Homo sapiens: one gene and its partners. The protein of the gene in region 1 interacts with the protein of each later gene in a biochemical or structural test. Each region holds a gene or a part of one and is shown on either strand. Other genes may lie near its edges.

The links.
Region 2: of the proteins of RICTOR (region 1) and GSK3B, one has a biochemical effect on the other in vitro, tested with the Homo sapiens proteins (2 studies listed by BioGRID).
Region 3: of the proteins of RICTOR (region 1) and PLK1, one has a biochemical effect on the other in vitro, tested with the Homo sapiens proteins (one study listed by BioGRID).
Region 4: of the proteins of RICTOR (region 1) and AKT1, one has a biochemical effect on the other in vitro, tested with the Homo sapiens proteins (7 studies listed by BioGRID, with this or other methods).

What each region holds. Positions count from the first base shown.
Region 1 is NC_000005.10:39,070,930-39,079,128, reverse strand, and holds the start of RICTOR (rapamycin-insensitive companion of mTOR), read left to right. Parts: upstream 1-4,729; 5' UTR 4,730-4,751; coding exon 4,752-4,800; intron 4,801-4,970; coding exon 4,971-5,018; intron 5,019-8,199. UniProt on the Homo sapiens protein: Component of the mechanistic target of rapamycin complex 2 (mTORC2), which transduces signals from growth factors to pathways involved in proliferation, cytoskeletal organization, lipogenesis and anabolic output.
Region 2 is NC_000003.12:119,909,114-119,916,971, forward strand, and holds part of GSK3B (glycogen synthase kinase-3 beta), read right to left. Parts: intron 7,062-7,858; coding exon 6,931-7,061; intron 3,698-6,930; coding exon 3,591-3,697; intron 1-3,590. UniProt on the Homo sapiens protein: Constitutively active protein kinase that acts as a negative regulator in the hormonal control of glucose homeostasis, Wnt signaling and regulation of transcription factors and microtubules, by phosphorylating and inactivating glycogen synthase (GYS1 or GYS2), EIF2B, CTNNB1/beta-catenin, APC, AXIN1, DPYSL2/CRMP2, JUN, NFATC1/NFATC, MAPT/TAU and MACF1.
Region 3 is NC_000016.10:23,673,840-23,682,312, reverse strand, and holds the start of PLK1 (serine/threonine-protein kinase PLK1), read right to left. Parts: upstream 3,425-8,473; 5' UTR 3,381-3,424; coding exon 2,973-3,380; intron 2,230-2,972; coding exon 2,061-2,229; intron 1,400-2,060; coding exon 1,255-1,399; intron 250-1,254; coding exon 156-249; intron 1-155. UniProt on the Homo sapiens protein: Serine/threonine-protein kinase that performs several important functions throughout M phase of the cell cycle, including the regulation of centrosome maturation and spindle assembly, the removal of cohesins from chromosome arms, the inactivation of anaphase-promoting complex/cyclosome (APC/C) inhibitors, and the regulation of mitotic exit and cytokinesis.
Region 4 is NC_000014.9:104,792,749-104,799,846, forward strand, and holds the start of AKT1 (RAC-alpha serine/threonine-protein kinase), read right to left. Parts: upstream 3,001-7,098; 5' UTR 2,736-3,000; intron 2,460-2,735; exon of another isoform or gene 557-2,459; 5' UTR 379-556; intron 1-378. UniProt on the Homo sapiens protein: AKT1 is one of 3 closely related serine/threonine-protein kinases (AKT1, AKT2 and AKT3) called the AKT kinase, and which regulate many processes including metabolism, proliferation, cell survival, growth and angiogenesis.

The DNA of each region.
Region 1 (8,199 bases):
ACAATGTTTTATGAAAATCGATGAAGCAGTTCCCATCAATTTAAAAAGGAGTTCATACAGAAGTACAGAGATAGTACCACATGTGATAATTTTGTATAAATAAGACTTTTTAAAAAGTTTAATTTTCACACACTTTGAAATGAGAGGTGAAGAAAATCTTTTGTATTATACAGGTGTTTACTATTTATTTAGTGGCAAGCTTTTTTTTCATGATGACTGGTGGCTTCGAGTAGCATGTTACCTATCAGATTTTTTAAAAAAAATTAAAAAAAAATTTCCCTTCAAGGTAGATGTGATAACAATAACTAAGAAATTTAATACTTCCAAAAAACCTGTGCTAGGATGAGAGCATTTAGAAAACAGATATTTGAAAGTGTTTCAGTTTTGTGATTTTTTTCTGAAAAAACTTAAAATATAAATGTGTCACATATATAAATTTTCATATCTGCACACTTGAAAATCATGGGAACAGAGTTTCCCAATCTGCTTCAAAATCTTTCAGATAAATGGTTTTGCAACCATTTTGCTGAAAATTTCTAAATGTTATGTCTTCTAGTTTGATAGGAAAACTGATTGACATTAGGCAAGATGAATATTTGTTAGCCAAATTACTAGTTTGATAGGAAAACTGATTGACATTAGGGAAGATGGATATTTGTTAGCCAAATTACATTTCAAAAAGCTTTTGTATCACTGGGTGGACGAAATGGGAAAATGAGTTTTATGGTTTAGAAATGCGGCCAATACAGTAGTTCTTCCATTTTTAACTTTGCATTTTGTGAGGTCTCAGCTATTAAAACCCTATACCCACATAAACTCTTCTTAGAACTAGACTTTTAAATTTCAGTATCACAAAGTATATAACAAGAAATGTCGAGAATAATGAAGTATATTCAGCCCCATTGCTTTGTATTCGTGTCATTAGTAAAATAACATTAAAAATTACTTTTAACCATTTTTATTTTGTGTTTATGTTTTAAGTTCTAATTTAATTTAAAAAGTGAATATATATGTATTGCAGTGTATGTGCAAAAGTTCTTTTTTTAATGAACAGATGCACAAATAATTTTGATTGTTTATAATGACCTGTTAAGTAAGTCATTATTATAATCAACTGTTTATAATTTTGGTTTAGAATAGCCAACAAAATTTTTCTAAAATAGTTTTCCTAAAAAAATTCATGAGTAAAAATTTGTTTGGGAACAAGTAAAATGAGAAAACGGGAGAGAAAAATCACTCCAAATTCTACCATCTGTAGATAATAACTGTTGAAATTTTACTGCATACCCTTCTAGATTTCATTTTTTAACATATCTTCATCTTCCATAAACATAGGTTTATTCTTCATTTAAAACTGTTAGTCATAGAGAGTCTCTTTAAAGAATTATTTAAAAGGAAATTTATATGAGATTTTGGGACAGAGATTAAAATTTAAAGACACAATACTCAGGGGCTCTGTTCTGCTGTGACCAAGACATAATTAACACTGGATGGGATTGTAACATTTGTTAAATTTAATTCATTGCTTGTCGTGTAAATGGCCTTTAGATGTCTCAAATGTGCGGTTTAACTATGAAGTTACCAAGAAATAGTCTGACCAAATTTTGTGGCTTTTTACTTGCTTTATCTTCAAATGGCCTATGTACCAAGGCAGAGAGATTAAAGGGAACTAAGATTTTGATAAGGCTTTTGTTTCTGTTCAGTATTACAACTGTATCCCAAACCGATAAAATATGGTTTACATACTAGAATTATTACTAGAATTCTAGTTATATACTAGAATTATTAACTGCATGCAGGAGGGTAGAGAATAGAACCAAGGGAGTGACTATGAATGGAGTAATTGTATCCTCAGAATTAAGCAGTTATCTTCCAAAGGTATGGTCCTGGACTCGATCTTCTTATAGAACATTTTTTATCAATGACTAATACTACCAGAAAAAAAAAAACAGTCACTGACACAGCAAATGAAACCTAGCTGGGAAACGAAAACTAAGAAGAGGAAGTCACATTCTCAATGACCAGATTAGAATCAAAATAAAAATTGGAGAAGTAGTAAGAAGTAAACAAAATGAGTAAGTCATATGGGTCGGCTAAAAGATGCAAGGAAGAAAAAGAAGTTTCAAAAGGAGGAATAGCTAGCAATTGGCAAGTATCAAAGAAGAAAATTTAGGGGTTTTAACAAGTATCAATCTGACTATAAACAATAAAGTAGTGCTACTGTTTAAAAAGCAAACACATTATAAAATGTATTCCTTACTAAAATTTATCTAAACTTCTGCTTCCTAGTTGAGTGTCACTTGCAAACACTAATAACTTGTTCCTTTTCACCAGACCTGCCATTCACTCTAAGAGCAAATATGGAGAACCTAACCACTCAAACGACTGAAATAGTAACAGAGAAAAAACTAGTTTCGATGAAAGATTGAATGTAATTTTTTCTCCTGCAAGAAATAGAGTAATTGAATAATTGTCTTTAATAGCATACAGTTATAATGATTAAAATACTACTGGATTTAGGCACTTATGTACCTCAAGTAACTTAAAAGTAGATTAGTTGTACTCAACTTTCATAAAACACCGAGAGAAAATGAAGTTAAATTGTATTAGGAAGGAGTTAATGTAGAATATAGAGGGATTTTATAATATGATAAAAGATTTGTTGAAAATCAGAACAACTGTAAGAATCTGGTATAATTTCTACTGATAGATCTCTACTTTTCTTTAAGGGTGAAATGTGGTGATACATGGAGGGTTGAAATCCAACCCTCTGCCAGACCTCAAGTTTTGTGATTTTTGTTTTAGGCAGTAACTAGAATAAATAAATTGCACCAAGATTTTTAAAGCTATAACGGAGGGAGCACGCTTGTTGACATTAAAACTACTACTGGTAATGCCAGAAGACATTTCTTTAAAGTACTGTAATTGTGTTACATCCTTAAATCTAAGTGCAGTATCAGCCGCAGATATCTGATTGTAGACTTGGTTTAAAAAAAAAAAAAGAACTGGAATATATAGATAATTGGCAATATTCTAAGGAAGCAGTGTTCCTATTTTATTTTCCAGATGATGCTACTTTATGTTCCTTTTATTTTTCTTCTTACCACTTATTTTACAAATGACATATATTAACTATAGGATATTTAAAAAGTAGAGACAAGCAAACAAGAACAAAAAAGTGCACGTGTAATTCCACAAATGAGGGGAGAAAATCAGCTAACATTTTCATGTATATTTTCAGACTTTTTTCAACATACATGTACATATAAAATATTTTATAATGTATATTTTTAATTTCGTACATATTTAAACTTTTATTATAAAACAGGAAATTTGTAATATTTTGCTTGATTTAATATCATGAACATTATTTCCTATTACTAAGTCTACCTCTTCACTTTTAATCGTTGACATAATTTACATAATCCCTACCTTTGGTCATTTAAGTGTTTCCAAATGTTCACTCTTATTAACAACTTCAACAAATATCCCCAATATTGCTTTTTTTTTCTTTTTTAAAGTAAGCAGAGAATTGGAATAAATTAGAAATCCAGGGCACTTACTCATCCAACAGATATTTATTGAATACTTATTTGTGCCAGATATTGCATTAACTGGGAGCTGGGAAAACAGAACTGGTTAAGGCTAGATCTCCACTTTTAATTAACTTTCAGTCTCATGGAATAGAAAGATGAGCTGAGGAACTGGAGAGGACAAATCGCTCCTCTCTTTAAAGTAAATGTAGTTCAAGAGAAAGCTGCTGGGTCAGTGGCCAGGTGTGTGTGTGTGTGTGTGTGTGTGTGTGTGTGTGTGTGTGTGTGTGTGTGTGTGTGTGTGTGTGTGTACACATACGTATTAACTAAGCAGTTTCTAGAATTAAAATCCCTAATGTTAATAGGCTTATGCATAAAATAGATTAATCCACAACACCTGCATGAGCCACGATCCTAGGAGCTGCAGAGCCATAAAAGCCGGACACAGTACCCAGCAGCCTCGCCTCGGCTCCCGGCAGAGAACACCCTCTCCCCGGCCTCCCGGCGCTGGCGCGATCCCACCGCGGGGACCGCCGCCCTGGTCCCCGGCCGCTGCACCCCCTTCTCGCGTCCTACGCCTGGCGGCCAAAAACAAAACTGCCTAACCACTTCCACTTGGAGAAGCCCTCCTAGCCGAGAGGGGCATTCTGAAGATCAAGGGCGAGGCTGGAAAACAAACTTTGTTACGTGTTAACTTAGTTGGAGCAAAGCGATTCCAGGAAAGGAGTCTAAAACTGTGCGCAGCGTTTTTATAAAAAAATGTTTCAGTGGATACACGGGGGAGCGGGGCCGTCTATGGCAGGGCTTCAGAGCAAGCAGGAGACTGGCAGGCCGGCGAGAGCAGGTGGCCCGCCGGCCGCATCCCGGCCTCCTCCTCCCCGCTCGCCTGCATTTGGACGACGGCTTCCGCGGCGGCCGGAGGGGAGCATCCTCTACACTGCCAACTCGCATCAATGGGACTTTCCTCGTGGGAACTGCCCCTCCCGGCGGACGTGCCCTCCGGGTCCGGCGTGGGCGGGCGGGTGCCGCGAACTCCTTGCAGACCTTGGGTCGGCTCAGTGCTCCCTCAGCGCTGGGGCCGAGCCTGCACCACCCGCCGCCGTCGCCGCCGAGGGGGCGGGGGAGGTGCCGCGGGGGGCGGGCGCGGCGCGCGGGGAGGGGAAGGGGTTCTCGCGCGATTGGGCGAGGTTTCCGGTGTTGTGACTGAAACCCGTCAATATGGCGGCGATCGGCCGCGGCCGCTCTCTGAAGAACCTCCGAGTACGAGGTAAGCCCGCTGCAACCCTCACTCCCCACCGCCCGGCGCCCGCCACCCCTGGCACTTGCCTTCCCCTGGCCCTGGGTTGGGGAGCGAGCCGGGGCGCTGGCCGGAGCCAGGGCAGCCGCAGCTGGCCTGCGAGCCAATCCTAATTGGGGCTGTGTGTCTGTTTCGCGCAGGGCGGAATGACAGCGGCGAGGAGAACGTCCCGCTGGATCTGACCCGAGGTAACGCGGGGCGCCGCGGGCGCCGCGAGGGCGCGCTGCTGGGGAGGAGCCGGGTCCGGGGCTGGGGGCCAGAGGCAGGGGCGGGCCCCGCACGGGACCGGCGGGGTGCGGGGGCCAGAGCCGGAGCCCCGCCTGCCGGCCCGCGGGAACCGAGCCCGGGGCCGCCTCGCCGGACCCATCCCCCTACCCAGCGCCCGCTTCCCTCGCCCGAGCCCTTCTCCGGGCCTCGGGCTGCTGCGGGTGCGGGGGAGCCCCGAGTGGAACTCGGCAGACCCGGCGACCCTCTGGGCTCGAGCTCCGGCAGAGTGGTTTGCACCTATCCCGGAGTCCGGCAGCCCAAGCTAGGGGCAGCTGGAGGGAGGTAGAGGCTGTTATTTAGGTTGCAGGAGGATGTTTGAGGGAAGAGCGACCACATCCTGCCCTCCCCGTCCCCGGAGCAGAAGCCGGACCTGCTCGGTGCTTGCCGACTGCGTGACTGCTTTCCCCTTTGCCCACCGTCCTGTGGGGACCCGCAGCATTGATAACTTGGTAGTGAAACCTAGAACTGGTCATTACTGCTAAATGTCTGGTTTATGCTGTTTCCCTTCTGCTTCCCTTTCCCGGGCCGCTGGGACTGTAGTTGGCTAAAGACCGCCCCCTCACCCTGCTGCAGGTTCATTGTTTACCTTCTGCAGTGGAGATGGGTTTGTTTACACCTTCCGAACTGGGGAAACTCGGGTGATATTTTTAATGACCTAATCCCGTTACTAGCCAGTGTTTCCTCTATCACTTACAGTACTAGAGTTTATTCGACATTATCTCGTTGAAGATTTAGTAGTTACGTACAAGATTCTTTTCTCTTCCACGGTAAACAGGATTGAGCCTACTGATTCCGACGAAGTCATATTTCACACGGGCTGTAGCTTGGAGTGTAACCCGGTTCAGCTGTACAGAATCAGTTTCTGAGGTCTATAAAACACCTTAGGAAGTAAACAAAAAAACTTGTTGTAGACATTCTGTATGAGATCAGTTTTTTACCCTATGTCGTACCTGACGTAATGACTGTTATCTACAGTAATTTGTTAAAGCTGGGCTCCTTGTTGACAACGGCTAGAGTGAAAGCATAGTGCATTTTCTAATTTGTTTTATTTTGCTTATCACGATGTAAGATTACTGTTTTATAAACTGAATGGTCAGCTTTCACTTAGCTACAAGAGTACATTTTTATAACTTAATATTTTATTCTGAAAGTTCAGGGACTTAGTTTTGGGTGAACTAGGTCCTTTTACAAGACAGTTTCTAAAATATAATACAATATAGTAGAGCTTAAATCCTGAAAATGGCTACTAATTAGATTATCAATGCACTAATTTCCACCATTTTTTTCAGCAGATCGGTTTTGAGAATTAGTATAGAAAGATGTAAAGCTTTTGACTTCTGTGCAACTGTTTGGAAACTTGACTATAACACACATGTGAAAAATCTATATAAAATAGATTCACTAGAAAACTTCCTAACAAGGATAACTTCTACAATTTCAGGTCTGTAAAAGATGTAATTAGTGAGTGATTTAATTTATATACAGGCATATGTGTTTTAGATGAAGGTGAAGGGAGCCCTTAATAAACTTGAGTTTAACTTGTGCATTAAAAACCTGCTCAGATGTGGTGCTGGAAATATATAGTTGTATTTTAAATTGAGTTCGTCGAGCTCCTATATATAGTGGTTTCTCTGCTTGGTGTCAAAAATGTTGAGTTGTGGAAGAGCTTAGGTACACATCTGATTTGATAATTTTGGCTTACTCCAGTTTTACTGAGGCACACAGGTAACTGTTTACTATTTAAAATGCCATATTAACTGAGAATTTAGTAAGCACCTATGTCCATAGGTATTTCCAGGTTAATATAGATAGTGCAGAAAATGCTGTTTTCGGCTTGCCCTGACAAAATGTACTTCAGTTTGGAATAAAGTATACACAGCCATTTAAAACTGATTGCAAAAATAAAGAGTGAGGGATTGTTTGAGATCTGTATTTCTAAATCATAAGGAAGTTTGGAATTAATCTGAATCAGTCATTTTATAGTGATACTATTGTTTTAAAAAGTTGCTGTTGTGACAGACATTTCATTGTTCAAAGAAGGCTTGAAGAAAATTCATGAGGAATTAAAGTTTAGTAATAATTTGAGAACTGTGAGGCAGTTTGGGTTGCAGCTGAAGGGCAGCTGTTTGTGGATTAGATTACAGTATGTAAAAAGATAAAGTTTGGGCAACCAAAAATTTTTTTGTTTAATGCCAAGGCAGTGTTTGCTTTTATTCTTATTTTTTAAATTTAATCTTTGAGAGATTCATTGTGTAGTTACCTAATAAAGCTCATTATAAAATAGAGGACATGGTCATTGTAATCCCTAAAGGATCCATCAATGTGTAGTGAAAAGAGAGTTGACTATAAAGTCAAATCATTCTGGATTGTAACCTCAGCTGTGAGATTTAATAGTTGGGTGATTTGGGGCAAGTTATTTGACCTTGCTTTACCCCTGATTTCTTCATTTCTAAAATAAGAGATAACTTCAAAGGGTTAAGAATGTGAAAAGTAAATGAGCTAGTTCTTAATTAAAGTACTTGGCATAAGACCGGATACTTTGTAAGTGATATTTAACATTAGTTGCCTTCCTACATTGTGAAATCACAGTTTTAAAACTCACATTAAAAATACTTTAAACGGTTGTTTTGAATATTATAAACTTGTTAATAAGGAATTATGGTATTCGAGCTTCTTTTTTTTTTGAAACATACTGTTATACTAATTGGGTATAGTCTATCTGAGTTAGAGTTCTTGAATATAACAATTGTAAAGCAATCTGTGACATTACCAATAAATTAAGTCTAAGCGAAGTGCAGTATGTTATATTCACTTAGGATAAAATGTGATACTGTATTTCATAGAACCTTAGAATTTTTGTCTCTGACACCAGGACATTTCATACTATTTAATAATGACTTGGCTAGCCTTGCAAGCTTCTTGAGGCTCAGAAGAATTCTAAGTTTCGTTGGTTTTGGTACTTGTGTTAGTGCTGTGGTTCATACATAGAGTGCCTCAGTTAAAAATTGTTGATGGATTAATTTTTATCTAGTTTAGGAACTTCATTATAGTAGACTTTACAGTCAGCGTATTGGTAATGGTTGCTCTGAGTTTTGTTCAGAC
Region 2 (7,858 bases), on another chromosome or scaffold:
CCTCAAGCCATCCTCCCACCTCATCCTCCCAAGTAGCGGGGACTACAGGGGCATGTCACCACGCCCGGCTAATTTTTGGTAGTGACAGGTTTTCACCATGTTGCCCAGGCTGGTCTCGAACTCCTGAGTTCAAGTGATCTGCCCACCTCAGCCTCCCAAAGTGCTGGGATTACAGGTGTGAGCCACTGCACCAGGCCAGGTCTGTTTTTTGTTTGTTTTGGTTTTCTGTTACTGTGGGGATGTTTTTGGTTTATTATTTGCATGCTTTTGTTTGTTTCTGGACTAAAGGAATTCTCTTCAGAAACAATATGTAAGAGTAAAATAATTTTGGTTTCCACTTGCACATCCAGCTTAAAGTTGCTCCTTGTTTGTTAGCTTCCTATTCATGTCCAGCTGATCATGCTCTCTCTGTTCACTCCTGGCTAGTGGGCTAAGATGTAGTAAAAGAGAAGGTCAATAATGATTAAAGCTAATGGTCTCTATTCAGTTCCTTCTATCACTAAACATCTTGGGTGACGACTTGAGAAGGTCAATGATGATTAAAGCTAATGGTCTCTATTCAGTTCCTTCTATCACTAAACATCTTGGGTGAAGACTTGAGAAGGTCAATGATGATTAAAGCTAATGGTCTCTATTCAGTTCCTCCTATCACTAAACATCTGGGGTGAAGACTTGAGAAGGTCAATGATGATTAAAGCTAATGGTCTCTATTCAGTTCCTCCTATCACTAAACATCTGGGGTGAAGACTTGAGAAGGTCAATGATGATTAAAGCTAATGGTCTCTATTCAGTTCCTTCTATGACTAAACATCTTGGGTGCATACTTCTGCAGAATCAGTGCATCTAGCAAAACTACTAGTGATTTAAGCTGATTTTATATTAAATAATGGAGATGGCATGAAGGAAATGTTAGCAATATGGCCATACTATCACTTTCATTATTAACTTAATGAAATAACATTAATTAATAAATTATCCAACTAGTATAATCATGCTCAGAAGTATTTCAGGAGGATTTTAAATAAGAAAGTAAAAAAAAGTTACTTAGAATTAATTTAAATTCTTAAGGTAAAAGCTATTAGCTTTATGATTCTAACAGTCCAAGGAAGAAAAATAGAATAGTAGGTATACCTTAAATTCTAAAAAGTAGAATTTGAAAAATTCTATACAGGCATACGTCAGAGATGTTGCAGAACTGGTTCCAGACCATAACAATAAGACACAATAAAGCAAGTCTCACCAATTTTCTGGTATCCCAGTGCATATAAAAGGTATGTTCACTCTATACTGTAGTCTATTACTTGTATAATAGAATTGTATAAAAACATAAATGTAATACATTAACTTAAACACACTTTATTACTAAAAAAAAATGCTAATGATCATCTAAGCCTTCAGTGAGTTGTAATCTTTTTGCTGGCAGAGGGTCTTGCCTTGATGTCGATGGCTGCTGACTGATCAGGGTGGCAGTTGCTGAAGGCTATACGATGTGGCTGGAGTAATTTCTTAAAGTGACAATGAAGTTTGCCACATCAACTGACTCTTCCCTTCATGAAAGATTTTTCTCTAGTAGGAGATGCTCTTTGATAGCATTTTACCCACATTAGAACCACTTTCAAAATGGGAGTCAGTCCTCTCAACCCCTGCTGCTGCTTTATCAACTACAATTATGTAATATTCTAAATCCTTTGTTGTCATTTCAACAATATTCACAGCGTCTTAACCACTAGTAGATTCCACCTCAAGAAACCACTTTCTTTGCTCATCCATAAAAGAAGCAACTTGTTTATGTTTCATCATGAGATTGCAGCAGTTCAGTCACATCTTCAGGCTCCACTTCTAATTCTAGTTCTCTTGCTAGTTCCACAACATCTGCAGAGACTTCCTTCACTGAAGTCTAGAATGCCTCAAGGTCACCCATGAGGCTTGGAATCAACTTCTTCCAAAATGTTGTTCATGTGATTGAGTCACAAATGTTCTTAGTGACACCTAGAATGGTGAATCCTTTCCAGAAGATTTAAAATTGACTTTGCCCAGATCCATCAGACTAATCACTATCTAGGGCAGCTATAGCCTTACAAATGTATTTCTCAACCTTTGGGTGACCAGTTGCACTGTCCATAAGCAGTAATATTTTGAAAGAAATACTCTTCTCTGGAGTAGTAGGTCTCAGCAGTGGGCTTCAAATATTCAGTGAACCATGCTATAAACAGATGTGCTATCATCCACTCATTGTTGCTCCATTTATGCAGCACAGGCAGAATACATTCAGCATCATTCTTAAGGGCCCTAGGATTTCTGGAATGGTAAATGAGCAGTGGCTTGCACTTAAAAGTCACCAGCTACATTAGGCCCTCACAAGAGAGTCAACCTGTCCTTAGAAGCTTTGAAGCCAGGCAATGACACTTCTCCTCTCTAGAAGAAGTCTTCCATCTCTAGAAAATCTAGAGATGAAAGTCCTAAACGGTATCTTCTTCCAATTCAGTAGAAGGCTATTTGGTCTCCATTAAAACTCTGATGTTTAATGTAGCCACCTTCATCGATGATCTTAGTTAGATCTTCTGGATAACTTGCTGCAGCTTCTACATCAGCACTTGCTGCTTGCCTTGCACTTTTATGGCATGGTGCAGCTTTTTACCCTTAATCCTCATGAAATAACCTCTGCTACCTTCAGATTTTTCTTGTGTAGCTTCCTCACCTCTCTGTCTTCACAGAATTGAAGGGAGTTCAGGCCTTGCTGGGTTAGGCTTTGGCTCAAGTGAATGTTGTGGTTGGTTTGATCTATCCAAACCACTAAAACTTTCCCTGTAACAGCAATAAGGCTGTTTCACTTTCTTATCATTCATCTGTTCATTGGAGTAGCACTTTAATTTCCTTTAAGAACTTTTCCTTTCTGGTCACAACTTGGCTAACTGTGTGGCACAATTTCGATATGCCTTCCTTGCTCAGCTTAATCATTTCTAGCTTTTGATTAAAAGTGAAAAATGTACCTTTCACTTGAACACTTAGAGGCAACTGCAGAGTTATTAATTGGCCTAATTTCAATATTGTTGTCTCTCAGGGAATAGGGAGGCCTGAGGATAGGAAGAGAGATGGGGAATGGCCAGCTGGTGGAATATTCATAACATACACAACACCGATCGATTAAGTTTGCTGTCTTATATTGTTGTGGTTTGTGGCAAACCAAAACAATTACAATAGTAACATCAAAGACCACTGATCATAGATCACCATAGCAGATACAATGAGAATGTTTGAAATGTTGCAATAATTACCAAAATGTGACACAAAGACATGATGACACAAAGACATGAAGTGAGCACATGCTCTTATAAAACTAGTGTGGGCAGACTTGCTTGACTCAGGGTTGACACAAACCTTTGAGAGGTTAAAAAAAAAAAAGCAGTGCCTGGAAAGTATAATAAAATGAGGTATGCCTATACATGTTTGCATCTCAAGCTTTAAGAAAAAAAACATTATGGGATATATCCATCTTTCCATGGAAATAAAAGTACAGATTAGTAGTACTAAATTACCAAAATCAAGAAGCAATTAATAATTATGAGCATTATATTCAGATTTGTACTTACCTATACTAGAGGTATAATCAGTGGCTCCAAAGATCAACTCTGGTGCCCTATAGTACCGAGAACAGATATACGAAACATTGGGTTCTCCTCGGACCAGCTGCTTTGCACTAACAGAAAAAAAATAAAAATAAAAAGCAGAAATTCTTTAAATCTAAACCTTAAAGAACTTAGACTGCTATCCTTTCACAGTATCAAATGATTTTATAAGATTCACATCATTTGAATCATATATGAAAAAGAAAATGTAAACTGTAACTATCTCTAATAAAAGAAATTTACAATTTTATCACCTTGCTCTGCAAAAAAGAATAGCAATTTTTAAAGAAAGCGTTTGTCACCTAAGAAGGCACCAAAAGCAAAAAAGGATAAGTGTTGAATTTCTTCTGATCCTCTGTTCCCCAAATTCCACCTCTAAAATACAAAGAAGCAAGGGCAGAAAAGAGGTACCTCCCCCACCAAAAAGCATGACAATGGATTCTAAGAATGAATACTCCTCACCCAATGTATTTCTTTAAAAAGGGTGAGAAACTGGCCACTGTCTTGCATTTTGACTTCTGACTCACGGCGAATATTTCAAGGCTTATAGACTCAATCTATTTTTCCATATCTTGGTCAATTTATTAACCACATAAACATTTATTACCCAATAAATTATAAACAGGCCCTTCAACTTCAGGGCAGAAATGATTCACTGCCTATAAATTCTAACTCTGCTATAGTAAGTATAATTGCATGTTTTCTTATTCCAATTTTCCTACTAAAATACTTCATTGCATGTATTTTAAATATGAAGTATAATAAATTACAATTAATTTCTTTTGAGATGTCGCCCAAGATAATCCAAAGACAGAATAAAATAAACTGCTGTAGAAGCCAGCCATTCTGACATACATTAATAATAAAGATAAATAAAGGGACAAAATGCAACAAAATCAAAACAGTAAAACAGTAAGTGCCAAAAAAAAAAAGTAAAGGTACTGGAAAACCAGGGTAAAGACAGATGAAAGTAGTCACAAGGATTTCAATGACTGGGATTTCTTTTCTTCCATTTATTTCTAGTCAATGATGACTCTAACCTTAACTTCTTTTTCCTTCATCACTAGTTTTGAAGTTTGTTTTTTAACCCTCTCCCCAAGTACTGACATACAATAACCATTTCATAAATTAATAAATACTAATCCCTGTTTTTAGGCTGCATGAAAATTATGACATTTAGTTTTCAGCATAATTGATAGGAGACTGTTATATCTTCTAAAGGATGCTTTTTAATTAACAAGATAGATGCTAATTATGTTCAGAAAATTCATTACGAGACAAAACGTTAATACCCAAGCTTTGTAGCCTGAAGTTTTTTCACTACCTGATGGAGCTACAAAAACGGAGCAGCCTCTCTTACAGAGGAGACTGGTTTTAACTACTTCCCAATATTGTGATCACATCTAGCTTTTTGTTCCTAAATAGCCCAACTAGTTCTTTAGCTACTTTTTGGCCCCTTTTCATCTAGTAAAAAAATAAGAAGAAAGTAATAGTATTTTGTTCAAATTACCAATCTGATAATGTACAGTCCAAAGTGTTTCCCAAACTCCATCTGACCAAACCAATTTTGTTAAAAACAAAAAAATCAGAGGGTTTATAAAAATGAGCTATCAAACAAGCGAAATCCCTCTTCCAAATTTATCAGAATAAAGCTATTTTATGTCCCAAGAGAATGGGCTGTACCAAGTGTTTTGACACTATATGAGAACAGAAGCTCTTCTAACCTTGGTGTCTCAGTCTGTCCCTACCAAGTCAGTCACTCTCAATGGTGAAGACACCCCATTAACAATAAAACATATCTGATTTGGGCAGTTTTTCCTATAGACAAGTAGTAGTGCTTTGTTTCAAACACCAGGTAAGAGTTTTACTATCTTTCACCCTTTTTAAAAATAGTTCAGGGAACAGAGTCATGGCCTGCAAAGTGATAGGTCATCTGAAATTAGAAAACAGTAAAATGAGGACAGTCTGAAAGAGGACACATTGTGAGACTAAGAAAAATTAACTCATGACAGAACAGATTTACTTATTTTTTAAAGGATCTGTCTCAAGAGAAGCCTGTGGAAAACATATCCTATGTTAAACCCCAAATTTAAACTGTGAATTGATGTAAAAGTATTACAAAGGGATAGGAACACAGGTATTAACAAGTGTGGGGCAATATGTTATCTATAGAGCTATGGTGAAAAGAATCTGTAACAAGGGTGAAAAAATTAAATTGGAGAGAATCCAAATTATGTAAAGATGTCTTAGGGACCATGAGGAGAGAGATTAGGTGATTACACCAGTGAGGAAGTAGCGGGGTAACTGCCTGAGTTACATGGGAATGTAGGCTTGACTACATGTTAAAAGGTTAGATCAGAGAGGCACAAAGTACTGAAAACTGAAAATGGAAAGAATAAAGTTGTATTACAAATTCACAGTATATTACCAAGAAATGAGCTTTTAAAAGCAGAAAGTTTGATGAAATTTGCAGGAAAAAGGGTGGAATAAAAGGTTAAATTATAGAGGAAAATGAAGAAAACACTGCATTGTTTTTTATCTCATCCCTGAATTGAGGTTAATTGTGAAGTTAAAAAGATACACAGGAATGTATAATAATCAATATTTTGAAAAAATTTAGTTCTTACTGAAAAAGGAGTATATATACCTAATGTAAATTCAAACAATACTAAAATACAATCAATGAAAAAGTGAGTTTCCCAACTACATTATATTCCCAAAGATCCTTTCTCAGGCAATCAAATATTATGGATTACGTACCATTTCAGAAATAAGCCACACATGTACTTGTGTATATATGTGTGTGTGTACATATATATATATATAGTCACATTCTGTATGTTTTTAAAACATAAAAGGTGGCATACAATACATATACTCTTGATCTTGCTTTCTTCATTTAATGTTTCCTAGACATCATTCCCTTTCAGTTCACAGAGAGTTGCCTCATTCTTTTTCATGGTTGCATGTATTACTCTGCATGTACCGTAATTTATTTAGCCATTTTCCTACTAATGGATGCTTATAAACAATGCTATAATAAAAATCCCTATATATACACTGTATTGTAAATATGTATTCCTAAGGAAATAATTCCTAAAAGTTAAACTGTTAAATGAAGGAGTATATACATTTATAATTTTGACAGAAACTAACAAAACTACTCTCACAGCTGCACTAGTTTATACTTCTTGAATAAGAATTACTGTGTTTAGGCTGATATTGCAAAAGGAATATATTTAAAAGAAGATAGTAGGGGGAGGAGGGGAAAAGGGAAGGGGCAGGGAGAGGGACAGTAGCTTACCTTCCAAAGTCACAGAGTTTTAATACAGCAGTATCAGGATCCAACAAGAGGTTCTGCGGTTTAATATCCCGATGGCAGATTCCAAAGGAATGGATATAGGCTAAACTTCGGAACAGCTGATACATATACAACTGGAATAGATAGTAGAAATTAATTAAATACTTCCTATTCTAAACAAATCAGAATCCTTAAGCAGTCAATAAAGTAACAGATTCTCAGAAAAGAACAGGTGAAATGCTATGGATTACTGGCACTCAATCTTCCTTTCACAAGTTTTGTGTCACTTCTGTATTAATTAGCTATTTCTATATGAATTAGCTAAACTGTCATTAACCATATGTACTATTCGCTTCATTCTTTAATAACTCAAAAGAAGAAAATTTTACAATGTGCTTTATAACTTTTAATTTTACTAACATCTCACATTACAAGCCTGCTAAGATGGGCTTTTATTTAAAACACAAATGAAAAGCTCAGAGAGGCACCCCAAATCATGAATAATCAGTAACTTTGGGCCAGAAACCAGGTCTCCTGATTTTTAAGTTTATAGTTCTTTCTAGTAGAGCATGCTGCTGAATGTAAACGTATTTCCAAAGTGTGATCTTTAGAATATTCTTCTGAGATGTCAGCCTCCAAGGTGATTGATACAGTGGTCTAGGAAAACTCATGTGGACTGAGAAAATCTGTAATCACTGCTCTATCAAGACATCAATAACCCTGTTAGTAGCATCACCATTCTTCCTGTTAATATCCTTCAGAAAAAGTATAATTCAAAATGACATTCAAAAACAGATGCCTGACTATTGACATCATCTTTCAAAAGAGAAGACTTTCTCAGTTTTCTTACCAAAAAGATACACTGAGAAACTGGGTCTGCATGGAGTAAAGAATCAGACTCTTGACTGGAGGAGAGAGAAACTTCATGGAC
Region 3 (8,473 bases), on another chromosome or scaffold:
AGTTCTGTATGCAATTTCAGACACAGGCCCTCTCAAGCTCTGTGGCTACCTTAGAGGTGGGATAGACCTATTTCTGGTCCTAGGATATTGCTGGGCTCCATAAACAGCTTCTGGGGAAAACAAAATAAATGTAAACTTAAAGCATCATTAGTCACCTTGGGAATACTGTATTCATTCTTCTTGATCCGGAGGTAGGTCTCTTTTAGGCAAGAAGTCTCAAAAGGTGGTTTGCCCACTAACAAGGTATACCTGTAAGCACAAGGTAGGATTTGGCACCAGTCTCCCAGCCACAACCCAGACATGAGAGAAATCATCTCAGGGTCAGAACAAAGGTCAGGCATCCTCTGGACACTCACTCTAACTCTGGGGCCCCTGAAGACAATCCCTAAGTCCACTGAGCAGCCCCAGAAGCCATGACATTGGCTAGAATAAGCCCTCAGCAGAATACACATGGTGAGACCAGGATTCTTAAGGGCCAGTGATTTTTTAGCTATAGCCTGTGGTCATCTAGGACTCTGTGCAAGGGCCTCAGATGCTGCCTGTCATGCAAAACAGGTCAAAGGGCTACCTGCGCTTACAGAAGCAGCTCCACCTTTAGCAGTTCTGTACTTAAGTCTTCAAGTTTTCATTTGAAAAAACCCCACTGCAAAGACGTATGAAAGCCATTGCTACAACTCATTTCTAACTCTCCAGTACCTAGGCCCAAAACAAGAAAGATAACACCTGAAAAGGCCCAAGCCTCTGCCTGCCACCAACCGCTGCTGATGGTCTTAATCCAGACAGACCACTGGCACATCATCTTTCCATCTGTAACTCCTGGCCTAATTTCCCCCACCATGCTAATGCTCATCGGTGTTTAAGACCTTATTGTGCAAGGGAATCACCAAGGGACCTTGTTAAAAATCCAGATTCTGATCCAGTAAGTAGTCTGGGTCCTGAGATTGTGTATACAAGTTCCCAGATGATGGTGATGCTGCCCTGTGGACAACTCTAGCAAAGGACTACAGTAAGGTTGTGGAGACTCTCCCTCCTCCTCCTCCGCTGTACCCATGACCTAGGCTGCAGAAATCCGACAGGATACACCAGTGACAGGGAAAGATATGACAATTAGGCTTTGTTTGGGGATGACTTGTCCCTTGGAGTAGGCTTTCTGTAAAGCAGGCCGAAAGGTCCACAGAAAAGGTCAGCCAGGTAGGATGTCCCAAAGTTGCCCCTGCTGAGACCAGGTTGGTCCAGAGACAACTCCCAACTTACATGATACACCCAATGGACCACACATCCACCTCGAAACTGTGCCCTTTCTTGCTCAGCACCTCGGGAGCTATGTAATTAGGAGTCCCACACAGGGTCTTCTTCCTCTCCCCGTCATATTCGACTTTGGTTGCCAGTCCAAAATCCCCTGGGACAGAGGGAGGAAGAGTTGGTACTTAGATGCCAGCCTCTGACATCTGTCAATGCAGAAGGCTAGTTAAGGTTTGACCATCCAGAACCAGGGCCATCTGATCCCACAAGCCTCTGCTCCTTGTATGTAGCAAGGCTTGCCCAGGAATCTTCCTCCCATGCTGACACCAGGGAGGTGCCTCCAGTGACACTTCTCACCCCTCCTTTTAGAAAGGGGCTATGCTTTGAAACAGGAACTGACAGGGATAGTAAAACTCCAATGCCTTCAAGGATCAAGCAAGTTAACCTCCAAGACTTGGCAAGTCTGTGAAGAATAGGGAGGAGTAGAGACTGTGGCAAAGAAGTCTGAAGGGGACAGCTGTTTTCCAGCCCAGCAAAGGGCTGCCCTAAGAAAATGCTGTCCTCGTATTACTGAAGCTTTCACCTGTTTAAAAGGAGTTCTGAATCAAACTTTTTGTTCAATCAAACCTTCCAATTTAAAAAATAAAAACAAATTCAAATTCTTTGTAAAAAAAAAATATTGCATTGGGGCACAAAAAAATAATGCATCTGTAGGCAAGATACTGACTTGTGGGTTGTCTCCTTCCTTTCTCCCAGCCTCCTCCAAATTCCAGCCTCTTGTAGTGATGTCAAGCACCCCTGCAGGCTCAGCAACTCACCTATTTTCACCTCCAGATCTTCATTCAGGAAAAGGTTGCCCAGCTTGAGGTCTCGATGAATAACTCGGTTTCGGTGCAGGTACTGGCAGCCAAGCACAATTTGCCGTAGGTAGTATCGGGCCTCAGGCTCAGTCAGGGCTTTCCTCCTCTTGTGCAGCTCCAGGAGAGACTGTGGGTGGGAAGGAGAGGGCAGGAGGGATGGGGAGGTGGATTGAGGCCGGTGGGGAAGGGAGAGGGTTACCAGGCAAAGGAAGCACAGGACTGGACTCTGGACTCCCAAGGGATGAAAGAGGGGTCTTGGTGGGTTTCTCTCCTTCCCTATGCCCCCACCCCATTCCTTCTCCAGCACAGCGGCATCTGGACCCTGCCTTAACACTGTCCACAACCATTCGCAGCACCCCTTCTCCTACTAGCTTCCCCCCTTACCTGGGGGTCCTCTCTCAGCCCCACTCCGGAAGCTCCGAGTCCCCAGCACCAGATCCCTTTCCTGACTCGTATCTCCCCCGGAAGGCCCGAAGTCTGGCTCCAACTACCCCCCCACTGACCCAGCTCCACCCCAGAAGCTCCCAGGGCGCGGCATCACTAACCTGGGACTCCTCCCTGGGTACTCCAGGGCCCTAGCGTCCATTACCAGCACCCCTCCCCCCAGCACCTCGCGTCCAGAAGCTGACTTCCCTATCAGCAACATGACTCAGACTCCACTTCACTGGAACCCCCTCCTCTAGCAGCTCCCAGAGCCAAGAAGCCCTTACCAAAGACACTTTCCATACGTAAGCGGGAGGCTCCCAGCACCCTTCTCTAGCAGCTCCAAGTCCCAGGCTCTCCCTTGCTGGGTACTCTTTCCAGCAGCTCCAGGTCTGGGCGCTCCAACTGCCCCGCAGGCAGTTCCAGTTCCCCAGCAGCGACACTCACCCTCCGGCGGCAGAGCTCCAACACCACGAACACGAAGTCGTTGTCCTCGAAAAAGCCGTGGAATCCTACGACGTGCTGGTGGGCGAGGCTGCGGTGAATGGATATTTCCATGGACATCTTCTCCCTCTGGTGCGGCTTGAGCAGCAGAGACTTAGGCACAATCTTGCCCGCGAACACCTCCTTGGTGTCCGCGTCCGAGATCTCGAAGCACTTGGCAAAGCCGCCCTTGCCCAAAAAGCGGCCCCGCACATAGCGCCGCCGGCTGCGTGGGTCCACTAGGACCTCCGGGATCTCTTTCGCCGGTGGAGCCGCCGCCGGAGCTCCGGGAGCTGCAACTCCGGGGACCCCGGCTTTCCCAGGGTCGGCCGGTGCCCGTGCCAGCTTCCCTGCAGTCACTGCAGCACTCATGCTCCCGAAGCTGCGCTGCAGACCTCGATCCGAGCAGAGCCTCCGCACCGCTCCGCTCCTCCCCGAATTCAAACGCGGCGCTGGGAACGTTACAAAAGCCTGCGCGCCACTGATTGGCCGCGGGGATTTAAAATCCAAACCCGCCCGCCGCGCGGCACCATGGGAGCGCCCTGCGCAGCAGCAGCCTTTAAACCCGGACCCAGCCGGGGAAAACCTGATTGACACGGACGCCCGAACACGTGGGATAGCCTGGGAAACCAAACCCGGCGTGGATGCGGAGACCCAGCCCCGAGAGAGGAGGAATTCCTTCGGGGTTTCTCCCTTTCTCGGGCGTCCGGGAAAGCTCCTGCGGTTCACTTGCGCCTCCTCCAGGAAGCTTTTACTTAAATCTTCCTCTACCTCGGGGCCAGGGAACAGTAGCATCGCCATCACCTGAGAGCTTGTTAGAACCGCAAAGGCAAACGTTCAGGCCCTACCCCAGACCTCCCGAGTCAGTGTCCGCCTCTCAACAAGACTGCTCAGGTGATTCCTACACATCCTGAAGTTGGAGAAGCACAGTACCAGAGCCCCCCATGATGCAACGAAGCTGTCTGGCCTCCTCGCTACTGAATTTCCCAGGGCCTAAAATAGTGGACACTCAGTTTCTTGGTCAGAGGGAGGGAAGGTTGGAAGAATGCCTAGCAAACTGGCAGGTCATAGCCAAATGTGTCTTGCGGGGTTTTGTTTGGCCTCCCCCCACGCCTTTTTTTTGTGTGTGTGACGGAATCTTGCTCTGTCGCCCAGGCTGGAGTGCAGTGGCACGATCTCAGCTCACTGCAACCTCTGCTTCCCGGGTTCAAGCAATCCTCCCGCCTCGGCCTCCCTAGCAGCTGGAATTACAAGCATGCACCACCATGCCCGGCTAATTTTTGTAATTTTAGTAGAGAAGAGGTTTCACCATGTTGGCCAGGCTGGTCTTGAACTCCTGACCTCAAGTGATCTGCCCCTCGGCCTCCCAAATGCTGGGATTACAGGCGTGAGCCACCGCGCCCCGCCATTGTAAAACATTTACAGCATTTAAAAGAGGAGCTCATAAAAGTTGGGATTTGTGGCCTTTCCTGAAAAAAATCAGCTCTAGCTACTTACTCTGTGCCTACATGCTTTCAGTTTGCCACAGTTTACAGCTACACCCGTTTGTTCTGTAGGTACTTGAGTGGCAACCCTGGAACAGTAAAATACCCACGTTAAAAGCTCTTTCTCTGTGCCTCCTTAGCACCCTCTGATCCTTCATAGAGCCCAGCAAAAATCAACCATACTATAAGCATCCTTCACCTGCCTTGCAGCTAAGCTGAAGGACAATGAGGACAATGATGCCGTCCTTTCTACCCCATGTCCCAAGCTCCCAGAGCAGTGCTTGGTAAAAAAAAAAGGGTACTTACTAAAATGTTGGCTGAATAAAAGGAAGACTTTGAAAAATTAAGTTATTTTGTACCCCTATAGTGTGAATTCTTTTTATTGAAATTTAATACACTTACAGAAAAAAATGTACATATTATAATTGTTCATAGAGCTCAGTGAATTTTCACAAACTGAACAAATCTGTAAACCACACCCAGATTGAGAAAGGGAACATGACAAACACCCTGCAAGTCTCCCTTGTGCCCTGTGCTGGGGGGTGCCAACACCACCACCTCCTAGTCTGATGATGTACTAGGAGATTCACAGACTCAGCCTGTAGTCATACTCATGGCTATGTTTTACTACAGCGAAAGGCTAGGAAGCAAAATCAGCAAAGGAAAAAAGCGCATGGACAAAGTCCAGGGAAACCAGGTGTAAGCCTCCCACAGTCCTCTCCCAGCAGAGTCACATAGGACACAATTCCTCCAGCAATCAGTTGTGACAACCCATGTGCAATGTTGTATACAAGGGAAGCTCATTACAGACTCAGTGTTCAGGGTTCTCATTGGGAGCTGCTCACCTCATCCTCTGCCTAACACATATGAAAATCTGACTCCCAGAAGGAAAGCAGATGTTGGGCATAACCCACATTGTTTGTACGAACAGTTTAGGCACAGTGAGCCACTCTTATCATTTAGGGAGTAATGAGAACCCTCCTGAAATCCAAGCTTTCAGATGCCAGCCAAGGGCCAGCCTTGCAAACAGGCCTGCTTTCTCATCTCTTTTCACACAGTCCATCTCCTTATTGAGGCTTCTTTACAGCAAAATTATTATTAGTAGGACCACATGCAAAAGGGTGAGACCAACCTCAAATATGGACCTCAGTTCTTCCTGGTAGGGGTCCTGGACTTAACCAGCTAAAATAAATCCCATTAACCATAAAGTCTATCTTAGGAAGCCAGGTGGCTTCCTCCTTAATTCCTTTTTGTTGTTGTTGTTGAGATGGAGTCTTGCTCTGTCACCCAGGCTGGAGTGCAGTGGCGTGATCTTGGCTCACTGCAGCCTCCACCTCCTGGGTTCAAGCGATTCTCCTGCCTCAGCCTCCCGAGTAGCTGGGACTACAGGTGCACACCACCACACCCAGCTAATTTTTTTATTTTTGTAGGGACTACAGGTGCACACCACCACACCCAGCTAATTTTTTTATTTTTGTATTTTTACTTTTCACCATGTCGGTCAGGCTGGTCTCAAACTCCTGACCTCAGGTGATCTGCCCACCTCAGCCTCCCAAAGTGCCGGGATTACAGGCATGAGCCACCGTGCCCAGCCCTTAATTGCTGTCTGAACCTTTTTTTTTTTTTTCAACCTGACCTGAGGCATCAATTCAGGCACAGTATAACTCTGACCAGTAAGCGGAAGCTAACCCAAATGCTTTCCAGGGCTGAGGGGACATCATGAGAGTTGTGGTCATGTACAGAAGCACAGTCCCAGGGGCACAGGTGGTACCCCTGTAAACAAAGAATTTGCAATATTAGGGCACCTCAAGCAGGACATCCATTAGGCTGTACAGGTGAACAGACCTCCTACCAGGGGAACTCCTGCCCAAGTGTTTCCAGTCCCATCTGAAAAGTTCCCAGAGTCCTTGGCTTCCAAGGGACTGCCTGAAGGCAGTGAGTCCCAAACAGTTTTGCTTGTTCAGGATACAAGTTGATCCATCTCATGAGCATGGATGACATTTGTGGGAGATCTTCATGGAAAGCATAGAAGCTAGACCCACTCTGTTGTCAGTCTGAACTCAAAGCACTCACAGCACATGGAAAGGCAGCACTGGGAATTTTCCTTCAGCAAGAGGAGGCTTCCAGGGATCAAGCCTCCCCAGGTGCCAGGCTTTAATTATTTTCTCCAATATTACAAAAACAGTCGTGCCCTGTTCAGCAATCATAACATTGCATTTTTTCAACCATCTCTTACTCTCAGCTAGGCCTTTCCTCTGGAAGGGTTGTATGTAAGAGGCACAAAAGCATTTTTGTAGATAAACTTTTTTTTTTTTTTTTTTGAGATATGGTCTGGCTCTGTTGCCCAGGCTAGAGTGCGGTGGCACGATTTTGGCTCACTGCAACCTCCGCCTCCTGGGCTCAAGCCATCCTCCTACCTCAGCCTCCTAAGTAGCTGGAACCAAAGGCACATGCCATCATGTCCAGCTAATTTTTGCATTTTTTGTAGACACAGGATTTCACCATGTTGCCAGGCTGGTCTTGAACTCCTGAACTCAAGCAATCTGCCCACCTCGGCCTCCCAAAGTGCTGGGATCATATGCATCCATCACTGCGCCTGGCCAACATTTTTTTTTTTAACTATCATCCTAGAGTTCAAGTAGATAAACGTTTTTATGCAACTTAACCAGAAAGACATTCAGAAATTGGTAATTATGTGTGGAGGGTTGAATTATGTCCCCACAAAAATTCATGCTGAAGCCCTAACCATCTACCTGTACCTCAAAATGTGAGTATATTTGAAGATAGGCCCTGAAGAGGTAACTAAGTTAAAATGGGATTGTTAGGATGGGCCCTAATCCAACCTGAGTGGTATCCTTATTAAAAGAGAAGATTAGGACACAGACACCCAGACAGAGGGACCATACAAGGACACAGTAAGAAGGCAGCCATCTGCAAGCCAAGCAGAGAGGCCTCAGAAGAATCTAAAGCTGTCGACACCTTGTCCTGGACTTTCAGCCTCCAGAACTGCAGGAAAATAAGTTTCTATTGTGTAAGTCACTCAGTTTGTGGTACTTTGTTATGGTATCCTTAGCAAACTAATAAAGGATGAAACCCTGAATTTTTAAAAATTTCAAAATGTGTTTACATAATCTTCTACCCCTTTTGTCCTGATTATTCAATGAGCAGACTAGAAAAGCCTAATACCTTTCTGGGGACAGCTACGTTTTAATAATCCACCTACCTTACTAAGCTGTGTGTGCTGGGAGAAAAGTGAGGGAAGTAGAGTCAGGCTGTCAGTCCACTGTTGCAAGCTGCAACTAATCCCAAAAGCTGAATGCAACAAGTCAACAGCAGTGAGAGAAGCCCCAGAGAAGGTTTGAGTCTGGTCTGTCAAAAGCAGGAGGAGAGGTCATAGTCCTTGCGATGTGCCCTTCCCCAGCTTGGAGCGTTTGGCAAATATTAGAAGTTAGGAATGCAATTAGCCTCTGTATTAGAGACAAAGAGCCTATCAGCAGCTTGATCTTAGATGGTCCCATTAGAGAATAAGCCCTTTTCAGCCAGGTTCCAGGACGTTTTCATAGTTTAGCGCTCCACGGAGGGGGTCCTTAATCTCCAACGGCCCCAACGTCTGAGTCCTGGTCATTGAGCCTGTGCCTGCTTTCAGTTCAGCATAGCTCGTGTTGAGGCTAAAACAGCTCAAGGCAGACAGTAGCAGGTTTCAGCTTAGAGTCAGGGCCAGGCAATTAGGATCTGAGAATTTGAGATTCTCAACAAGCAGCTGCTTTTCTTCAGCAGCAGTGAAGGCATGCTGCATGGCCAGACAGCTGTGGTCCAAGTGACATGCAAGGCTGCCTTTTTATCTTGTTGGTCTTAGAGTCCAATTGACCCACTCAAAAAAAATGCATATTAGACTAGACAATCATCAGCCTCTAAGGGGAGACATTTGATTTTGACAAGGGTTCATTAGCAATTTAACTGTATTTTCATTTTCCAAACAGA
Region 4 (7,098 bases), on another chromosome or scaffold:
TGAGGCCACGCCTGGCTAAGGGCAGCTCCTCGCCCTGGGTGAGCCAGAGACCCACTGCACGTGCCTGGGGGCTCCACCCGCACCTGCCTTCCCAGGTGGGCTGCCATCCCTCTAAGCTCTCTGACCCCCATCTGCCCGCCTGCCTTCCCTCTCCCCAAAACACTCAGGGCTGCCAAGTGTCAAATCCATGTAATTGAACACAGTTCCCTGGACCTGGGCCTCTCCTTATTCTAGGCTTAGAGCCTCCAGCCCCTGCCACCACCACCCGCAACAGCCAGGCCCTGAGAGCTGCTGCCTTGCTCACCTCCCCATTCCCACCTCCCCCAGCCGTTGGACAAATCACCCCCATCCCCAAAAGGCCTTCCCAGCCTCCCTAACCTGATGCACCAGCTGACAGGCTGCCTCCTCCAGGCAGCCCCTTTGACTTCTTTGACCCAGGCTGGCTCGGCCTTCCCTAAGCCCCTGGTGACAGATGGCCCCGTTTGCTCTCCCTGTCCATGGTGTTCCTACCCATGGATCCTGGGACAGGGCACAGGGCTCCTCCCTGCTCCCCAGACTAGGAAAGCAAAGAAATTCAAACATGAGGAAGACAGGACCAGGATGCAGGCCACTGGCGCAAACGGGAGTCCAGAGCCCTCCAGCGCAAGCCCAAAAACCTCCTGGGAGAAACCCCAGGCCCCTCCTAAACCACAGCGCCCCTGCCGGTCTGAATCTGGTTCATTCATTTGGCCAACATGTACCGGGCGTCTCAGGTTTTGCCAGGCCCAGTGCTGGGCGCTGGAGACAAAGAGAGGTTCAGACAAGTCCGTCAGTGAGGAGCACCCAGTCCAGGGTGGTTACAGACCCATAATTACAGCAGTCGGGAGGCAGCAAGTAAGTGGGGGAGCACTGGACAGGCCCCCGCCCTGCAGCGGCCCACCAGCCAACCCTCACCTGAGCACACTTTATCCATTGATCCTGCATGGCTTCCTCATTTCCCCTCTGATGGATGAACTCCTAGGCATCCCTCAAAACCCAGTTCCCACATCACCAACTACAGGCATCCCCAGAAAGAGCACTTCGCATGCTCTTCCTGTGAGCAGTCCTCTGCTACCCTTCCAGATGGGCCTTCCTGAGGGGAGGAGGGTCCTCTCTGGGACCTCCAGGCCAGGCAGAGACCCCTGACGACCTCTGTGGAATGGATCCCAACATGGGTCTTTCCACAGCCAGCTTAGACGCTCTCCCCCCAGGCCACCTTTCTGGCCTCCCGAGGCAAGGGCTGGACACCCACAAAGGGTTGCTTTGCACTGATTGTCTTAAGCTACACTTAGAATGGCAGGAAGGCCCACTGCCTTGTGTCTAATGCCAGGACAGGGAAGACCACACCTTACCCAAAGAGGGAAATGCCCCAAGTACTTAGCAGGATGGAAAGCAGGCCAGACTCGAGGAAGGCACCGCAGGACTCCGAGGGCAGGGCTCCGAGCCGCGCACGCCTCAGGCACAGGGGGCTCTGACGACACTGAGTGGGCGTGGCCTGGAGGCAGAGGGCTGGACTCAAAGACCTCTGGATGTCCCCCCACCCCCACACGGGCCTGAGCCCCTCCAAGGCCTGCTGCTGACAGAGTCAGACAGCTGTCCAGAGCCATGTGTAAAAATACATCTGTGCTCACACAGGGTGGTGTACGTCTGCACAGAAACGTATACACCAGGCCAGCACAGGGCTGCCTGTGGGGGCGGAGGGACCCCGACTTCCCACAGCCTCCGTACCTGCCGCCTGCCTTTACCATAAGCACATATTCTTGCTACTATTATTAAGTCACAACTTAAAAAAAAATACTCTGTTTTCGAAAGGGCTCCTCCATCTGCCTCCAGAACCCTGGTGTATGAGAAGTCTACACAGCTCCCGGGAGAGGCAACCGGACCCCCACCAACGGACTCCGTCCGCCCTTCGCTCGGATGAGGGACTCAAAGCAGTCAAGAAGTGGCCACCTGGAGCAAGGCCGAGAGACCCAGGAGTGAATGTGGGGCGGCCTCTGGCTGCAGAGCAGGGGCCCAAGCTCACCCGCTGACCAAGGCAGCACTCAGAGGCCGTCCCGACAGGACCAAGCTCGCTAGCGCCCCAGGATACTCAATCTAAGGGGCAAGCCCCAGCTGCCCTCCAAGCCTTGGCCTCTGGGATGGGCGGGCAGGACCTCCAGGGCCCACCCAAGACAGGAAGCAGTTCCGGGGCCCAGGAGGGTCACAGTCCTTTGTGGCTAGCCTGGGTACCCCGCCACCACGTACAACTTTTCGTCCGTGGGAAACGAAGTCTCCTTCCGGGGCCCTCCCACAAACTTGAAGGCCGGCCGCGGCGAGTCTTTCTCCAACCCCGGGGCACCTCCGCCGGCTGCCTCGCTGGCCCAGCGCCCGGGGAGCCCCACGGCCCGCAGGGGCACCCCGAGCCCCAGCTCCAGGCCCGGCGGCGTCCCTTCTCTCGGGTCCCGGCCTCGCCCGGCGGAGCGGCCTCCCCAAGGTCATGAGGGAGGCTGGGGCCGGCAGCCTGCACCCCCGGCGCCCGGCGTGGGGCCGCCCTCCCTTGGCCGGGCCCGCGCGCCCCGCGCCCTCCCCGCCCAGGCCCGCTCGGCCACTTCCTGCTCCCGCTCCTCCATTCTGGCGGCGCCGCGGCTCGCGCCCCGGCCCGACCGGCCGCGAACAAAGCGGCCCGGCCCGCGGGGAGGAAATCCAGGCCCGGGCGGCCACGGCGGGCGGGGACTCACCGGGCCGCCGCGTCCGGGCGCGAGCGCGGGCCTAGCCGGGCCGCGGCCTCCGGCGCCCGCCGCTCCGCATCCCCGCGGGCCGGCGCTGGGCGGGGCCGGGCTGGAGGCCGCGGCGGGCGGGGGCGCTGCTCGGGGCCGGGCCTCGCGTGCCGCCGCCGCTCGGTGCCCGGTGCCCAGCGCTCGGTGCTCGGCCGCCTGCTCCCGTCTTCGGGCCGCGCTGCGTGCGCTGGGCCAGCCGCCTGCCGCGCTCGGTCCTGCCGCCGCCGCCGGCCCGCCCTCTCCCCGCCCCGCGCCCGCCCCGCGCCCGGAGCCGCCCGCCCACATCCGCCTCCGCCGCCCGGGGCGTCCCCACCGCGCGGCCGGCGGCGAGGGCGGAGCGCGCTCGGGGAGCGCGCGGCCGGGCTGAGGGGCAGCTCCCGACGACCTGGGGCCTGGGCTGGGCCGCTAACGGAGCCCGGCCACCAGCCAGCCCGTCCCGGGGCCACGCCCTCTCTGGCCTCAGTTTCCCCGTCTGTAAAGTGACCCGGCGCTTCTGGGCTCGCTCTGCCGTGACCCTAGCAGAAGGGGCCCGAGACAGGTCAGGGACGAATCCCGGACTTCTGCCTCCGCGCGCGGGGCGGGGGTGGCTTAGGTTGACTTTCAGGCTGCCCCACTCTGGGGGGCGTGGAGGGGGCGGCCAAGAGTGACCTAAAAGGCCCAATCCCAAGACCTTGTGCCTCTGGGGGAAGTGCGGGAGGATGCCAGGACAGGAGGTCAGTTGGAGGTGGGCCTCCAAGGAGCAGGAAGGCTCCGAGGGGAGTCAACCATTCACCTAGGTACTGGCAGCTACACTCACAAAAGGGGGACTTTGCTGGGGAGTGGGAGAAGAGGGGCACACCTTGCCTGGCTCCCACCTTGAGCTGGGAGCAGACACCAGACAGAGGAGGAGCGGTGTCTAGGGTGGGCTGTGACAGCTGACAGCCCAGAGCCCTCCCTGCTGGGTGGACTTGGTCAGCCCGGACACCCAGTCCGAAGTCCACTGGGAGGCAGATGGCCCGGGTATGGAATGAGTAAGTGGGACACAGACCCCTTTCTCCTGGACACTCACAGGAGAGTGCAGGTGACTGCCACCCCGACCCCTTCCTAGCCAGAAGTTCCTCCGACAACTGCCCCTCCCCCATTCCAGAGGCCCACAGTTGATAATAACCCTTTTGTGAAAGACAGACTCTTGTGAGTTACCTTCCTGAGGCTGCTAAGTATTGGGGTTGGGGGAGCATTTTTATTTTCAGCCAGAGTGAGTTCAGCTGGCAGCAGGGGAGGGGGTGGGAGGAGATGCAGACAGAGGCAGCAGGTTCGGCCCAGTGCTCAGGACAGAGTCTGCAGCCAAAACTCGGGCTTCATCCCTGCCTCTTGGGGCTGACCAAGAGAAGGACTCTCTCCCCCTGCATGAGGGCACTCGCTCCTCAGACAGGGGACTCCCCATTCCTGCCTCTCGCCTGAGCACCTCTGCTCCCTCCCAGCTCAGACTTTGTAACCCCAGGAAGGGCCCACCTCCAGGGGGCCAAGTCAGAGGCCCAGTGGTCTGCGCCGCTTGGGTGGGATACCTGACACAAGGGTTGCCCCCAGAGCCTGGGCGTCTGGTGTCTGTCTCTCACCCAGCAAACCTGCACCATGAGCCACCTGGGGCTCCCTCTGGGACTGTCCCACCTGCCCACTGCTCCCCGAGGAAGAGTTCCTGGTATCTGTCCACCATCCTGGGCTCTGCCATGCAAGGATGGAGGAAGGAATTCAGGGAGGAAGCAGAGGGTAAGAGGGCCATGAGACAAGGCCAGCAAGTGGCCGAGGCTTGGGGATGTGGGAGGGAGCAGGGCACCCTCTCATGGAAGAGGCAGTGACATTGCGGGCTGTTCTTGAAGTGGTTGGACCTCTTGCTTATTTTGCACTGGCTGTCTCCAAGGAGGCCTCCCAGTCTTCCCAGCCTGGTGCCCTGGCATCTGCTGGTGCCTGCAACCCACTGTGGGCCCCACACTCCAGTCCTGTCTTCACCTTGGCATGAACTGCCCTCCCCCAAGACGGGGATCTCCCAGTGGGCAGGGCCATCTCCCTCTCCTCCAGCGTCCCAGAGGGAAAGCAGAGTCCTCTCTTCAAGAACACCCCCTCCCACCCCAGACAGAATGGTCAGGAGAGAACCCAGCCCCACGGCTGCTGCTGGGACTGCTGAGGTGCTCTGTGGCCAGATGTTTCCGACAAAAACTGCTGCACCAGGGAAGGGCCCGACGGCTGCCTCCTCCCAGAGCTCAGGGGCCTCCTGCCCTGTCACCTTCTGCAGCTGCTGGCCGGGGGCAGGACTCGAGGGCCCTGGGCTGTGTAGGTCCCAGCAGCAGCTGCAGGGCGGGGCCTCAGGGCAGCTCCCAGGCCAGATGGCCGCCTGAGTCTGCAGAGGTTCTGCCTGAACCACCACCGCCGCGACAGTGGCTGTGTGACGGTGTCCTGTCATTCCTGCACTTGAGACCCAGCCAGTCACAGGGGCTCTGAGGACTACAGGCTGGCCAGGATCCCAGCACCAACTCTGGGCGGTCTCTGCCTGGAACAGCCCCCCTTCCCTGATCGGTGTGGGGCAGGAGGGACTTGAACCCAGACATCCCGACCTGAGAGGGATAAGGAGCTTCTCTCCCACTGTCCCCTCCCCTTCATCTAGCCCATTCCTAGCTGGGCCCTCCTTCCAGGTCCTACCCTAGGCTCCTGAAGGCAGCATCCTGACCCTCCCTGTGTACCACAACCCCCATTAAGTGTCCAGGCTCTCTCTGTCCCGCCAGCCAGGCAGGGCAGGCTAGGGTGCTTGCTCCCAGCCTGCAGTGGGGAGCTGTCAGCCTGTTGCCCAGAGCCCCAGTGTGGCAGGCCACCCCTACTTGCTCTGAAGGTTCAGGGGCTGGGGGTGTGGGCAGGCAGGGCTGGAATGTTGCCACAGAGGAGTCAGGATTAGGGATGGTGGGACCATCGTAATCACTCACAGAAGCAACCGTCACACATTCACTCAACAAACATTTACTGAACACCCACTTGCGTCCTGCCAACTTTTAAGCACCAAGTGACCAAACAGCCCCTTCCCTTTCAGAAGGTGCTGGAATATCCCACAATCACAGGACACCCGGAATGGGCTGGAAAGGAGGGTATGCAGCAGAAGGGACTGCGAGGGAACTTAGCGAAGGTGGGCAGGAATGGCCACCCTGACTAAGGAGTGGACTTTCAGCAGAGACAGGGATGAAGAGAAACCAGTGAAGGGTTCTTTGGGGAAGAACATTCCAGAGCCTGAGAGCTTGCTGAGTGCCAGGCCCTGTCGTTAATGTTCACGAAGACCCCGGGATGCACTCTGACTCCCATTTTGCAGATGAGGATTACTGAGGTTCAAAGAGGTTAAAGGTTTGGTCGTGCTCAAGGTTGGGAGGGGCCGGGGCAGGGCTGTGATCCAGGCAGGGCAGGAAGGGAGCAGTCACATCTGAGTTCACCCTTAACTTACTTGAATTCAGCTATTCCTGCTGGTGGCTGGGGCAAGGCAGATGATTATTTAAATGCGTGGAGAGAGGGGAGTTGACCTTCCTCAGGAAGGGGTCCTTAGGGTGGATGGCCGGCGGCAGTGGGAGCCAGGCCTCTGCCGTCCCTAAGCTAGTCTCAGTGGCTGTAAGTGCAGTGTCATTCCAGGGGTCCAAGCTGCAGTTGCCAGGTTTAGGAAATAAAGATGCAGTCCATCCGGTGAAACAAGGAATGATATTTTAGTATAACAACGAGGCCTTCCTTCCCAGACTTCAGATCCCACTGTGGGCTCCACTCCTCCTGCACACACATACCTGGCCGGGTCCTGTCCTTTGTGATCCAGCCCCTCTTCCAGCACCACCCCCACCCCACTGCTTGGCCTTGACTGGGGTGACTCCTCCACTACATTCTCCATTTCCCGGACTCCAAGGCAGAGAAGAATGAGACCGGCTGAATTCAAATCGTGGTTCAGTGACTTACTGCCTGATACATGGCTCTGGGTACCTTACCTAAACTCTCTCACCAAAAAGGTATGAAAATAAGAGCGTCTAGTTAATGGGACTGTTGTGAAGATGATCCGGTGGTCTAGAGTACCTTCAAACCTGCTCAGTCAAGGGCAGCCCAGGTTGTGCCCCTGGGAAAAGGCTCCATCTGCCTGGGAGGGACCCTAACCCCGCCAAACACACTCTCTACTTCTCTGGCGATTCCCTCTCCCACAACCAGGCGTCCCCCTCACATCTTCTCAATGCTTCTTTGCCCTAGAACACTTTCCCCCACTCCTCCCTACCCCCACTCCCATGCCAGCCCCTGTCCGGAGTCTCCTCCTCTTTGAACACGTTCCTGCCTACCCTGG